4 linked regions of the Homo sapiens genome follow. The protein of the gene in region 4 purifies or fractionates together with the protein of the main gene of each other region. This does not show direct contact. Each region holds a gene or a part of one and is shown on either strand. Other genes may lie near its edges.

Region 1 (3,545 bases), on a different chromosome or scaffold from region 4:
CAGCCTTTGATGTGCCTCTCTCCAGGACTGGGCTGCCAGCCTCTCAGCCAGCCCAGAGACACTGCTGACAGGGTCCTCCCGCTGGAGTCCAGGCCACTCAAGGTTCAGACTGACAGCCTGTGGTTGTCTCTGGCAGTTTCTTGGCCTGTGACAAGAGTGATGTTTCCCTTCCCAGGTTCTTGGGAGGATGAAAGGCAGTGGATGAGGAAGCACATCTGAGCACGTGCTGCCTGCTGTGCTGGGGCGGCAGGTCAGCTTTCCTCTCTGCGGCCCCATCCCTGGGTCCTGGCAGGGGGCCCCTCCCTGTGAAGTGGCTTCTTCTTTCCCTGGCTGTTTTCTCAAAACCTCCTCACTAGCACCTTCTGTCGATCATCTTCTTTAGGCCAAGCCATTTCTGTCTACGTGAGCCAGTGCCCCATCCACAGGTACTCATTTCAGAACCCCAGTCTCCTGAATCCAACTGAGGTTCTACATATGAAGAGCCGGGGTCAGCTGGGCACTGTGGCTCCAGCTTGTAATCCCAGACTGGAGGCTGAGGTGGGATGATCATTTGAGCCCAGGAGTTCAAGATCAGCCTGGACAACATAGGGAGACCTCGTTCTCTACAAATAATAATAATAAATAATTAATTAATAGAGCCAGGGTCAAGTAGATGCTCACTAAGTAAGGCTCAGCTCCCCTCCTAAGTTCTGCAGGCTGTAGGGCCCTCCCAGCCAGGCAGGGATATGAGCCTGACTTCCTTTCATGCCCAGGCCAGGGACCCTGCCAAGAAGGTGGCAGGAAGCCTGGAAACCACTAGGCCTCTACTAGAGAAGAGGTGTTTGCTCTTCTTCTGTGTCCTTTCTGTGCCAGCTCCAATGTTTGCCCTTGGCAGCTGCCCCACCACCCTTGGGTTCCATGAACTGGCATGGGATAATTGCTTCAAAGGGGTTGTTGGGCCAGCTTGTGGAAGCCTTAACTCAGGAGGACAGTGTAGTAGAGTGGGAAGTTCATGAGGCTTGGGACCTGAGGAATAGATGAGCCACTGGACCTCTGTGAGCCTCAGTTTTCTCATCTGTAAAATGGACTTGGTGATCCCTGCCGTACCTTCTTCCTGGACACTGAAGATCTACTGAGGAAGGTTTCCTTTTTTTTTTTTTTTTGAGACGGAGTCTGGCTCTGTCATCCAGGCTGGAGTGCAGTGGTGTGATCTCAGCTCACTGCAAGCTCCGCCTCCCGGGTGAACGCATTCTCATGCCTCAGCCTCCTGAGTAACTGGGACTACAGGTGCCTGCCACCATGCCCGGATAATTTTTTTGTATTTTTTTAGTAGAGACAGGGTTTCATTGTGTTAGCCAGGATGGTCTCGATCTCCTGACCTCGCCCATCTCGGCCTCCCAAAGTGCTGGGATTACAGGCATGAGCCACTGTGCCCAGCCTTTTTTTTTTTTTTTTTTAAGACACGGTCTCTCTCTGTTGCCCAGGCTGGAGTGCAATGGTGCCATCTAGGCTCACTGCAACCTTGAGCCATCCTCCCACCTCAGCCTCCCAAGTAGATGGGACCACAGACACCCGCCACCGTGCCCACCTAATTTTTGTATTTTTTGTAGAGACAGCGTCTTGCCATGTTTCCTAGGCTGGTCTCAAACTCCTGGGCTCAAGCAATCCACCTGCCTCAGCCTCCCAAAGTGTTGGGATTACAGGCATGCACCACCACACCCAGCTTAAGGAAAGTTTTCCATTCCATGGAGATGAGAGGGCTCACCATTGTCACCTCAGGAGCCAGGGCCACCTGCTGTGGCACCCCAGAGAGTGGAGAAGCCTTGGCCCTTCTGTAGGTCCCAGGCAGGAGAAAGAAGGGGACTCACTGGGCTTGACAAGCTGGGGACACAAGAGGAAGTGGCAGAGATTCTGTGGGAATGGCCACAGCTAATCTGCCCAAGCCAGCCCCATCGCCACTTCCTCAGTCTGTTTTCGCCACCCCCGTTCACGTGGACGTGCACACCTCCCAGAATGCTGAGCTTTGAGTTTGGGCCTGGCCATGCTAGGGAGTGACTCACCACCCAGCACGGAGAGCCTACTCCCCAGCCTGCCCGCCAAAAGGAGCGGCCTCAGCTTGTCCCCGCTAGGACCCTTCGGGCCTCCTGCCCTGGAGGTCATCTCCCCTAGAATACAGTGTCTGTGGAGAAGACAGGCCCACCTACTGGGCTGCCCCTCTCCTCCCACCAGCTAGGGGAGCAAGAACTCAGAGGAGAGCTTCAGAGCATCAGGGAGGGGGCGCATGACTGCCTGCTGAGCTTCCAGTGTACTGGCCCTGTTTCAACATCTGAGGAGCCGTGAGCCCCTCGAGCCCTCTCTGGCCCCTGGGTTCCTGTCTGTCAAATAAGGAGTTCAGCTGATGGCTGAGTTTCTTCTGTTTCAGCATTTTGGCTCTGTGAACTGCAGGGACAATAGCCTGAGGTCCCTCCAGCCACCTCTGCCTCAGCCAGCAGGACAGGTTCCAGACGTTTTTCCAGTAGCTTTCAGGCTGAAGGGGAGCTGGGGCCACGCTGAACCCAAGGGGGAGATGGCTTCTGCTCAGTGAAGGGAAAGGAGAAGGGGCAGAAAATGAGTTTTGCTGAATACCTGCCATGTGCCAGGTCATGTATATATCCTTATATCATGTATTGCTTCTGACAGTTTGTCAGTGTTGGTATGATTACCCTGTAACTTGTCCAGCCTGTGGGACTCAAAACTCTGGGTTTTCTCTGTATTCTGCCTTTTCTGAGTATAAATTCAAGCAAGGTTTAACCCTGGATCTGCCTTAAGCCTCAGAGTCCCCATCTAAAATGAGGATCCTTGTTGTAAGGCTTAACGGGACAGTCCCCATGAAGTGTCCTATGAATTGTGCATTTAAGGAAACATGGGCTGGGTGCAGTGGCTCACACCTGTAATCCCAGCACTTCGGGAGGCTGAGGCAGGTCAATCTCTTGAGGCCAGGAGTTCGAGACTAGCCTGGGCAGCATAAACAAGGCTGCATCTTTGCAAAAAATACAAAAATTAGCCGGGCATGGTGGCCCATGCCTGTAGTCCCAGCTACTCAGGAGGCTGAGGTGAGAGGATCATATGAGCCTTGGGAGGCTGAGGCTGTAGTGAGCCGTGATTGTGCCACTGCACTCCAGCCTCAGTGACAGAGTAATACCCTGTCTGAAAAACAAAACAAAAAAACAAACGTTGTTGGCCGGACGCAGAGGCTTATACCTGTAATCCGATCACTTTGGGAGATTGATACGGGTGGATCACTTGAGGTCAGGAGTTCGAGACCATCCTGGCCAACATGGTGAAACTCCGTCTCTACAAAAAATATAAAAATTAGCTGGGCATGGTGGTGGGTGCCCGTAATCCCAGCTACTTGGGAGGTTAAGGCAGGAGAATCACTTGAACCTGGAAAGCAGAGGTTGCAGTGAGCCAAGATCGCGCTGCTACACTCCAGCCTGGGTGACAGAGGGAGGCTCCGTTTCAAAAAAAAAAACAAGAACAAAAACAAAAGACAACAAACAACAAACGTTGTGAAGAACTGACAGCAA
Region 2 (3,545 bases), on a different chromosome or scaffold from region 4:
TGGGGCAATTATACCATCAGATACCTGCAAAAATATTAAATTTTAATTTCTATTTTTAAAAATCAGAGAACACCTCTTAAAAAAATCTAGCAGCAATTATCAGTCTTAAATAATGTGGCAGCATATTCTGGTTTCTGCCTCCAACAAACAATGCTAACGCTATACTTGAAAAGAGAAATCTATTAGAATACAGCTTTCTGTATAGCAGATCCTAACTTTCTGTCCTCTCCAAGTTTTTGTTCGTTTCAGTTTAAACTAAGAAAATATGACTGATTTGCTCTTAACACATGTACCTCAGGAGGAAATATTTCTTCAGGGAGTGTTTTGAATGAGCAAGAGCACATTCTAGTCCTGACTCTCCTAGTACATGGTTAAATGACCTCTTCCGGCAAGGCGTTTTCCTTAACAGCAAGACCAGATTAAATCAGAGATTTGACATGACGAAAGATACAAATGTCACAGCCCTCCTGTAACCTGTAACCCAGGGATGGCAGTGGCCATGGAAAGAATCCTAAAGCAACAAAATAGTGCCAAGCCACATGCTCCTTCAGCCTTCACCTCTGCTTATTTTTTTCCCCTTTCTGAGCTATTTAATCTTTTTCTCTTTTCTTCCTGTCTTCCTACTACCAACAGTACCCCCACCTGTCTGGAATACCTGTTTGGTATTCAACTGATGGGGTAAGTTTATTAATGTAGTTTCTGTTTTTTACCCACTATGCAGTAAGATGGATTATATCGCATCACCACCTAAAATTACAACTTCTGCTCTTCAGAAACAGTAACTTTGGCATGAAGACAACAAAGAATTTAAAATAAATATATAAGTAAAAAACATCATAACAGCCAAATATCCATCTGAAACAATAATTCACTACATTTCAAAATTAACAATTTAAGATTAATGTTCTATTTAAAATATGAACATTAAATGATAAACTTAGCTAATTAAAAGATATTATAAATATAAATATTATAGGTTATGGTTTCAATTAACATTATGAACAAATAAAGCTTTATTCAACACACAGATTAAGATACATGAATGTCCACTAACTTCTCTGGAAATAATTTTTGCAGTTGGTACATCACAAACATCGGACAATGCAACAAAATCACCAAATGAAGACATCCTATCAGCCCCTGTAAATAAAATTAAAATGAGGTATTTATCACAAAGTATCCTGATACAGAAAAAGTAATAAAATTCTCCACTGTCATATAAAATTCATTACTCTAAAGCTAATCTTACTGTTTACATAAGATTTTAACAGATCAATAAGTCATTTAACTGAAGTAACCAGTAAGAAAGTATTCTTTAATTTTACCCTCTAGAGTGACACTCAGAAAACTTTTTCTGTGAAGGACCAATTTATATATACTATATTCACAAAAACAGGGTGGCAGGCTGGATTCAGCTGAAGTTGCTGACCACTGCTGTAGATGATAAACTATGGTAATAGTTTCTCAAGAACTTTCAGAAATACTAAAGGGATATTCATGGGTTATTAAATTCAACAAGTAAATGTCTCTGATAAAACATGACTCTAACCAAATGTAGTAAAGTTAGAAGAGCCATAAATCACGCCTGTAATCCCAGCCCTCTGGGAGGCTGAGGCAGGTGAATCACTTGAGGTCAGGAGCTCAAGACCAGCCTGGCCAACATGGTGAAACCATGTCTCTACTAAAAATACAAAAAAATTAGCCAGGTGTGGTGGCACGCACCTGTAATCCCAGCTACTCAGGACGCTGAGGCAGGAGAATCGCTTGAACCCAGGAGGTGGAGGTTGCAGTGAGCTGAGATGGCGCCACTGCACTCCAGCCTGGGCAACAGAGCAAGAAGCTGTCTCAAAAAAAAAAAAAAAAAAAAAAGAATAGCTTTTTGTAATTTCAATTTTGGTCACATATTAAACAATAACAAATGCATTCAATAGCCTAAATTAGCAAAATTACATTGACCAAATTCCAATTGTGTTTCCATTTATTACACTAAAATACTAACAAATACTTTTTTTTTTTTGAGACGGAGTATCGCTCTGTCACCCAGGCTGGAGTGCACTGGCGCTATCTTGGCTCACTGCAAGTTCCACCTGCCGGGTTCACACCATTCTCCTGCCTCAGCCTCCTGAGTACCTGGGACTACAGGTACCCCCCACCACGCCCAGCTAATTTTTTGTATTTTTAGTAGAGACGGGGTTTCACCGTGTTAGCCAGGATGGTCTCGATCTCCTGACCTCGTGATCTGCCCGCCTCAGCCTCCCAAAGTCCTGGTACTACAGGCGTGAGACATTGCGCCCGGCCTAAAATACTAACATACACTTTTATAAAGAAATGTATTTTGAGGTACTCACAGAATCAATCTCAAATATTAATAAAACAAATTAAATAGGAAATCCTATAATGAAACAAAGGGTATTTTACTTTAATCAAACTATATTATATAGAATAACTGTATATTTACATAGAGATAGAAGTCCTTAATTTCATCTATATATTATACAGAATATCTATATATTTTTTCTTTATTCTATCCTCTTTATTCTATTTAGGATAAAATATTGCTTTTTCTTTCTCCCCCAAATCAAAAAGCCCTATGAGTCTGACCTCTTGCTCTTGCATATGCCGCTGAGATGGGTGTGAGGGTTTTATAGAGATCATAAACCATGCAGACTTTGGCCTCATCTTCACTGAGTGGAATTCCAACAGCAGCACCTGGTTAGAAAATAGTAAAATCATAAACAAAGAAAGCTAAAGTTACTACCTGTCAACTCCTAAATCAAGACAGTTTTCTTAACACCCAGTCTACGCAGCACATTTTCTAGTGCCTGTGCTAAATTAAACAGAAATCTATTTAGCCAGATAATTATACACTAAAAATATGGTTGTGGGAGCAGTGTGAGGGAAATCTCCTCTCTGCCCTCCAAAACCACAGAGCCACTGAAGCCTGACAGTACCCAGCGTGTAGGTGAAGCTCGTTTACTTCATTACTGACTCACTCTTTCTCTCTGTTCTGCTTGATATCACTTTGATATCACACATCATTTATTTCTTCCCCACTCACATCACTTTAACACCCAATAAACACCTGAGAACAAATCATGTGCTGGAGGACTGTCAGCAAGATGTGGTGTACAGACAACTCAATTGCGGAGTTCATGATTTAAACACAGAAGCAAAGTATCTCATACAACGACTATAAGAAGTTTCAGATAAAGAGTCCAAAGAAGAACTTCTTTATGTTTACTCCATTACATTTTCAAAGATGTGGCACAAGACTTAGTCTATTGCATTAGGACATTTCACTTTTATTTTCTAAACTTTTATGGTTCCACCCCACAAACAAATTCCTGCCTCATTTTCCTGACAATATTACACAATTCTGTGTGTGTGTGTGTATCAGATTTTATATTATTACATTGATACTGTTATCAACAGATGACTTTCAGATTTCATAGCATGTCTATATTCACATTAGAACTTGTTAATATTCAAAAAAATTTAAGAAGAAATGCCTTTCGAACAATTCTGGAGCTTTCCAGAGCACAGAG
Region 3 (3,545 bases), on a different chromosome or scaffold from region 4:
AAAAAAGAAAATGCTAATAAACATGTCTTCTGGCTGGGCGCAGTGGCTCACGCCTGTAATCCTAGCACTTTGGAAGGCCAAAGTGGGCGGATGGCTTGAGGTTAGGAATTTGAGACCAGCCTGGCCAACATGGTGAAACCACGTCTCTACTAAAAATACAAAAATTAGCCAGGCGTGGTGGCGGACACCTGTAATCCCAGCTTCTAGGGAGGCTGAGGCAGGAGAATCGCTTGAACCCGGGAGATGGAGGTTGCAGTGAGCCGAGATCGAGTCACCGCACTCCAGCCTGGGCAGCAAGAGGGAAACTCTGTCTCAAATAAATAAATAAATAAATTAATTAAATAAACGTGTCTTTTTTGGCTAGACTGTAGTAATGTTGTTAATCTTGTCTGTGGATTGTAACAAATAAAGTAGCTTGTTTCCTTAAAGATACTCATCTGTCAACACATGTGATTGTATTTTTTCTGATTTGCCTTACTTAAAATTTTGAATTGATTTTTTATGTCTTCATAACTGAAGCCTAATTCTTCCCTCTTTATAATCCATCCTACCCAATCAATAAAGTTCTGTTCATTTAACCTCTTAAATATTTATTTAAACACTCTTGTCTACCATTCTATCATTACCTTAATTCAGGCCTCCATTTAGGCAGCAGCCTATTGCTTGGTCTAAGTGTGTCGCTTTCATTCCCCTCTGCTCTATCTTCTACAAAACCAGTGATGTAGCAAAGACACAAACTCATGTCATTTCGTTGCTGAAAATCCTTTCTTGACTCCCTATTACCCATAACATGAAGTTCTAGCTTATTATTCTAGCAGAAAAAAATCTGAAAGATTTGACTATTGCCCAATCTTCCAGCCAGATTACTTTGCACTCTGTCATTTGCTTTATAACAAAAAGAACTAACATCTATACCATTCTTACTACATACCAGGCCCAATTCTAAGTGCTTCTTGTATGGTAATATTGATCTTCAAAACAGTACTATGAAGTAGATATTATTATTATCTTCACTTAACAGATGAAGAAATGGAGGGAAAGCAAGGTTAATTGAAGTACCAAAGGTCACAGAGTCAGCAAACAGCAGAGCCAGGATTCCAGCCCAGGGAGTCTGGCCCCAGAGTCCATGTTATACTGCCTCTGCAGCACTAGGTTGAAATAGGTGAACAAATAGAGATATTGGTTTTTGCTTTTATGACTTTCTTCATATGGTTTCCTTTGTCTGAAATACCATCACTCCCCACCATTCCCCTATTACCCCATAATCCCTGACTCTCACCCCTCAATTAACTCATTATCACATTAGGCGTCTCCTTTTCTAGGAGACTTCCCAGCTCTCTCCATTACAGCTGGGGTGCGTGGGCCCCTTCCACGCTTTTGCACTTGTATGTGCACTCTTCAGGGCTGGGGCACACCTCACTTTTGATACCTGGCTCTTCCACGAGATCGTTTCCTGGGTCGTCTATGAGAATATCTAGCCCCTGTAGGTGCTTAATAAAGATTTGTCAAATAAATGAAACAACAAATGAATAAAAACACTGAATAATGATAGTGCTAGAAGTACCAGTTGTGCAGTAGGACTTTTGTCCCAGTTCAAACCTTGAGACAATGACAGCTAACGGTCCCAAATTCCTATTGGGGAATTTGTATTCAATTTCTGTTGAACTGCACGTTGTTTCAATACCTTAAGGGTCCGTGTCTTCATTTAGGATTTAATTAGAGATTTCAAGGTAGAAATTTGACTTTATATAATCCTGCAACATTTTACATTTAGAATTGGATTAGAGATTATGCAAACATGATGCTTCCATGTCATATTAGAAATAATTTAAATTGCCTTAAAAATAAATCCAGCTACTGCTTTTAACAATGAGTGAAGCCAAACAATATCCTAAACAATTCTAAGAAATAGGGCAACTGCATATTTTTAATAAATTACTAAGGAATAATTTTTAACTGTCATCTTCCTGAAGTTCATAAATAAAACACATTTGATGTACACATTAGCCCTAAACTGAAAAAGAAGTCACCCCAGTATTAGACTGATGGACATATCATTTACATGAATAAAGCGAAAACAATCTCCTTGATACAGGAATGAAACACATTACAAAAGCAGTAACCCTAAAAAGATTATAAATAAGCAAAACTATTTTCATCCACATTGCCTTTTTTCTGGTAGCTTTAGGTAATAGCAGAGGACACTCAGGAAAAATAACCAATCTCTTTCGCCGTGATTGCTCTTCACCTAGGAGGGCTCCTGGTTTTACCAGGTTACACTTTCAGATGTAGACTATCCTCCTCCTCTTTACCACAGAGAAATGCCACAGTTGTCAGCTTCTGTGCTCAGCTGTATGATGAAGGCCCCTCACTCGCCTTAGCACTTGAGTGATGACGCATGCATTCCATATAGCTGGAGACGAAGACGACTCAAAGAAATTGCCTGCCTCAGCTCAAAATATTTTTAAAGGAGATGCAAATTGAAGTGGAGAGAGAGAGTGGGAGAAAGATCATCCTTTGACAAACAGCCTTACTTGGGGTTAATTTAGTCAAAGGTCCTGTAGATGTGTATCTTGTTTAATATTTCCTTTAGATTTTAAGAAGACCCGGGATTTTATTGTTGCTGTGTAACAGCTAATTGTATACATGAAATATCACCATTTCTCGTCAGCTATTCTCAGGCAATGATGATAAATGCGATAATATGTTACATTTGCATGGTGCTTTTCTGTTTACAAAGCACTTTCACACACATTATCAATTCATTTTTTTTTGTTTTCACTGTATCAAATATTTGTTACCTACTTAATCTACAATCAAGCATACACTTTCATGTGTATTTAAGCAAAACTTAATTGCTAGAGGAATAACATTTACATTTGTAATGTAAATTGAAATTGGTTTGAAATGCCATGCATGAAGTTTTTTTGGCCTTTAAAATGAAAAAAATAAAAAAGAGTTTTGTCTTAAAACTTAAACCCTAGAGTTTTGTCCTAAATTCTAAGACCTTTTTTTTTTCCTGTTGTTTGTTTCCACTAGCACCTCAATGAGATTGACTAGACCTCATAATGGGTAACAGTGGCAATTTGATTGATTGAAAGGAAAGACAGAGTGAGCATCAACAGGGGTCTTGGTTTAGAGTATGACTCCAGAGATATCTGATTACCAACAATCTCCATGTAGTATTTTCAGATGCTCCCTAAACAACCAGGTAGCTTTCAGATTAATGATCAGCAAAGTTCAATGAATTCAATATGATCTATCTGAGTAGCTGAGCTATCTGCGTTTGTAGTTGTTGCTGTTTTAAATTCTACCAATGTTCTTTCTGGAGTAACAAATGACAGATTTAGTGAACAGAAGAGACTCATGCCTGTCTATGATCTTCACATATTTCTTAATCTATGGCTTTTCAGAGTGAAAATATTTCTAGGAGCTTCCCAAAAACTAAACTATTCCTCACAATGACCAAATCCCTTTTGGATACATCCAAGACTTGACTTTGCGGGGGCAAATGGGAATGATATCCAGGGACCAGTGCTGGACCC
Region 4 (4,190 bases):
TAATGATGGCAGTAATACCTTAGGGTTGTTACGGGAGCTCAAGTGACTTAAGTAAGTATAGCTCACAGAACAGCAGTGGGCACATATAGTAGTAAATATGATATTATACAAAGGTCTTAGCATCATTCCTGACGCATGATCTATGCCCTTGCTATTATCATGAGATTGTTATTGGAGATGCCAAAAGTAGGGATGCCTCTCTTTTCTGGAGTGTACTCACACTGATACTGTAAATGGGCATAAAAATATCTAGCTCATAAGACTGCTATAAGGATTCCATGAAATGATGTAAATCATCTGGTGTAGATTAGACACTCAATCAATTTTGGTGCTCACCTCTGCCACTTTCCTCTTTTTCCACATTCCTGGAACATAGTGGACAGCATCAGTAAGATGGTATCAGGGATGGAGTATGGAATGGTGGAAGTGAGCTACAATGGAATAACTCTAAATTATTCAACCAATATTTTTTTTCCTAGAAAAAGCTATTAATTCATTTTTTGTTGTTGAAGAGAAAGCTCTTCCTTTTCTAAAATATGATATCTATTTCTTAGAGCAGGCACATTCTCCCTAAGGCTGTAATTCTTGTCATGTTTGCATGAGCAGTCACATAGAAGTATTATTTTCAGAGATATTGGAATATGAGGACATTTTTATGTAGTTTACTGTGATTTTAGTTATATGCTAGAAAGATTGCCTCCTAGCTCATTGTTCTGTTGTTTTGCATATTAGAGAAAATGTTGGACCACTGAATGATTGGGCTAGGAGTGGGAGAGTGAACCTCAACAGGACAGGATTTAGGTAGCCAGAGAAAGTTACAGCATTCTAGTAGCAGCCTCTGGGGAGGGTTAGGGTTGCCATGGCCACTAAAGATGGTGATGATGTCCTTTGACTTGGCCATGAAGCTGCCATTGTCCTGTGTAGCTGCACCACTGGGGTGGTGAGTTGGAAGTAGACATCCCTGGACGGGCACATCCACTCCATGGGAGTAGCCAAATGCACAGGGACTTGGTTCAGTCTGCACCCCTGTGACTGCTTTTTTGGTTATCTTGACAAAACTGAGCCAGTTTCTCAGTTTTAGATTCCTCTTCATTTGGGGTGTGTGTGTGTGTGTGTGTGTGTGTGTGTGTGTGCACGTGCGTGCGCACCTGGTTTCTTCTGAATAACTGTGGACACCTGGAAGGCAGTGCCTCTATCTCAGTCTTCTGACTTGCCCAGAGGGTTCTTTCCTAACTGGACGTTGGTAAATTAGATAGAGCATCAGCTCTGGCTCCTCTTTCTGAGATCTCTCTGCCGCTACAGGGAATGGGCTCATGTAACAGTAGGAAAATTGGTTGAGGGGCCAGGAGACATGATTCAAATCCCATTTTGCAGTATGGTCATAAGTAAGGTTTTTAAAGTTCTCCAGAAATCAGTGCTCCTCTGTAAAATAATGAGACTAGACGAGATGATCCCTTGAGCTTTGTCCAGCTTTGAGCCTGTGGAGTATAATGACATAAACCTGACCAAAGGGGCACACTGTGTTGTTTATAGAGACAGTGCAACTGAAGTATCTCTGAAAGAAAAAGGGGATGAGGTGATACTTTGTTTTGAAGTTGTAGGAGAAGGAGAAAAATTCTCTTTGATTTTCAAAGTGTGTTATTTTAGTGATTGGTTGATTACTGACAGATATGTTTAATTTTTTAAAAAGTGTTCTTTAGTAGAAGGAGACAGAGTAACACAAATACCTACAATTTGTAGTATCCTTGTTTATAAAATGTCTTGTCGTGCATTATCTCATTTGCCTTCACATGACATAGAGCAGGTGTTCTCCTACTTTCCTGTGAGGGAACGTGCCTCATAAAGGCGATGTGCCTGATCATCTAGGCCCAGATCCCAGGTCTCCTGGTTCCTTGTCCAGGCTTCTTTACATGCTTTCAATGTTTCCCAAACTATGGCACTCTAATTGTGCCAAAGATAATTTTGGGGGGCATGTGGAAATTAAATCTTTCAATGGGTTGATAATTTATTTTCATGAATATTAGGAAGAAATATATAACATACACCTAAAATCTATAAATTCATGGCTATGAGAGCAGGGCGCAAGGGTAAGTTTTAAAATAAATGAGTCAATTGAGAGGAAAACATTCACTAACTGTAAGTAGTGGTGGAATTGAGATCTGACAAAAATCCTCAAGGTGATACACAAAGGACTATTTCTTTCATCTCCTTCATAATTATCAAGCATTTATAAAGCATCATGCCTTCTTCCCGGGGCTTTTATAGTCGTTCTGTTTAATTCATACAACAACCTCATAGTCTTGTTACAACCCATATCCTTCAGTGAAGGAGAGTGTGGTTCTGCCTATTCATTTTTTGTCAGTCGTTGATTTTTTTTTTCTTCTTTTCCCATTAAGGGGATGAAATATTCCCTGAGCTACCTCCCTGCTGAATATGCTTAAGTATGTTCCAGGTTATCTTTTTGAGCCTTCGTTATTCTACTCCATATCGAAGGTCAACCTTTCTAGTTCTGTCTCTATGTACCGAATACTCTGCTTCTCTGGGGTGTGGTGATATCATACCATGAGTTTAAAATTTAGCCTTAGCTATACAGCTTAGCTTATTAAAGTTTCACGTTTACTTTTCAGGTTGTTGTGCAGTTGTGGTATTAGCCAGTTAGAGATGTTGTGCCTCTTGCCTCCTCTATAAGTCACCACAGATATATAAACTGGGGACACATTAATATAAGCTCTGATATCAGGCTGACTTAGGTCTAAATTCAACCCCTTACAATCTGTGTGACCTGGAACCTCAGTCTTCTCACCAGTAAAATCAGAATAACAGGGTTACATATTCATAGAGTTGAGAAAATTAAATGAGATAATATCCATAAAAGTTTTAGCACAATGCTGAGTGCATAGGAAGGGGCCTTCAGCAAAAGCCATAATTACTATTCCCCTTTGAAGTGCCATCAGGCCATCTGTTATTTTGCCTCCCTGATCTTCCTTTAGCTAGGAGTCTCTCTATGAGCCCCTCAAGCTTGGGAAAATTCTCCAAGCCTTAGCAAATGGTCTTGACATGCTGCTTCCCTCCTCGTTTAACTTAGAAACTTGTTCTAAGATTTTCATTCATACCCTGATTTAAAATCTTTTCTGATTAACATGGACCAAACGCCTTGTCTGTCTCACACTTCCTCTCTCCATGCACAGTGGATCCATCTCTTGACTCTGGAATAAAAAGGCCTAGGTTTAAATCCTAGCTCTGTTTCTGGCTGGTTGTGTGGATTTTAGCAAAACACCTCTCCTCTCCAAGCCTTGATTTTGTCATCTATATGGTGGAAATAAAAACATCTGTGTTATCCATCTTCTAGGATTTTAAAGATTAGATCCAAAGTATATGTGAAAATGCTCTGTATGTTATAAACCACTATCTATGTGTTCGCTATTATTTTTATTACCTTCTGCACTGGACATGGGCTCTACGTCAGCTTAGAACATGGCTTAAGAGCATGGTTACCCCAATCTGTTTTTCTAGTAAAAATAGGTGTAGATGTAGCCTTCATTCCTTCATTCCTTGACCTTGAACAAGCCTTCCTGGGTGAGCTGACCAAAGTCTATGACATCTGCCTTCTTTTCCTAATATCAACAACTGTTTATTGAATATTTATTATATAGCTAGCACATTCCTTAGATATTCCATTGATTCCTTCCCAATGATCCATGTGCATGTGATGCCTATTTTTATGATCTTCACTTTGTGGAAGGAAATTGAGCCTTAAAAATGATCCTGCCCAATGTTAGCCAGTTAAGCATGTGATAAAGCCAGTACTTGAATCTGGAGACTCAGGCTGCAGACTGCAGATGCACATCTCAACTCAACAGAATGGCTCCCTGCCCTAGTTTGGGTTGATTATTGATCACTACAAAGATGTCATTTTAGTAATTTCACTTTTCACCTTCACTTTCCACCACACTATAAGGTTCTGTAACTCGGGATGTGGCAGTCATGTCTTCCCCTCCCATTTGAAGTCTTTGCTTCTTGTCCTGCACCTGTCTATCAAAAGGCTGGGAGGCTGGAATGTTGGGAAGTCACTTAGGTGGATAGCAAAGGGTTGTGTCATAGGATGAACTATGGATTTTTATGTTTCCTCAGGCTTTTCTCCCACAGAAACTGTTTCCATCGAAAGAGCTGTGTAAGTGCAGAGGCCTGAG

The links.
Region 1: the proteins of KCNAB1 (region 4) and SLC35F6 purify together in Homo sapiens (co-immunoprecipitation; one large-scale study listed by IntAct). This does not show direct contact.
Region 2: the proteins of KCNAB1 (region 4) and ATIC fractionate together in Homo sapiens (co-fractionation; one large-scale study listed by BioGRID). This does not show direct contact.
Region 3: the proteins of KCNAB1 (region 4) and EPHX4 purify together in Homo sapiens (co-immunoprecipitation; one large-scale study listed by IntAct). This does not show direct contact.

What each region holds. Positions count from the first base shown.
Region 1 is NC_000002.12:26,767,239-26,770,783, forward strand, and holds part of SLC35F6 (solute carrier family 35 member F6 precursor), read left to right. Parts: intron 1-3,545. UniProt on the Homo sapiens protein: Involved in the maintenance of mitochondrial membrane potential in pancreatic ductal adenocarcinoma (PDAC) cells. Promotes pancreatic ductal adenocarcinoma (PDAC) cell growth. May play a role as a nucleotide-sugar transporter.
Region 2 is NC_000002.12:215,332,514-215,336,058, reverse strand, and holds part of ATIC (bifunctional purine biosynthesis protein ATIC), read right to left. Parts: intron 2,710-3,545; coding exon 2,602-2,709; intron 1,141-2,601; coding exon 1,055-1,140; intron 25-1,054; coding exon 1-24. UniProt on the Homo sapiens protein: Bifunctional enzyme that catalyzes the last two steps of purine biosynthesis.
Region 3 is NC_000001.11:92,036,440-92,039,984, reverse strand, and holds part of EPHX4 (epoxide hydrolase 4), read right to left. Parts: intron 1-3,545.
Region 4 is NC_000003.12:156,126,787-156,130,976, forward strand, and holds part of KCNAB1 (voltage-gated potassium channel subunit beta-1), read left to right. Parts: intron 1-4,190. UniProt on the Homo sapiens protein: Regulatory subunit of the voltage-gated potassium (Kv) Shaker channels composed of pore-forming and potassium-conducting alpha subunits and of regulatory beta subunits.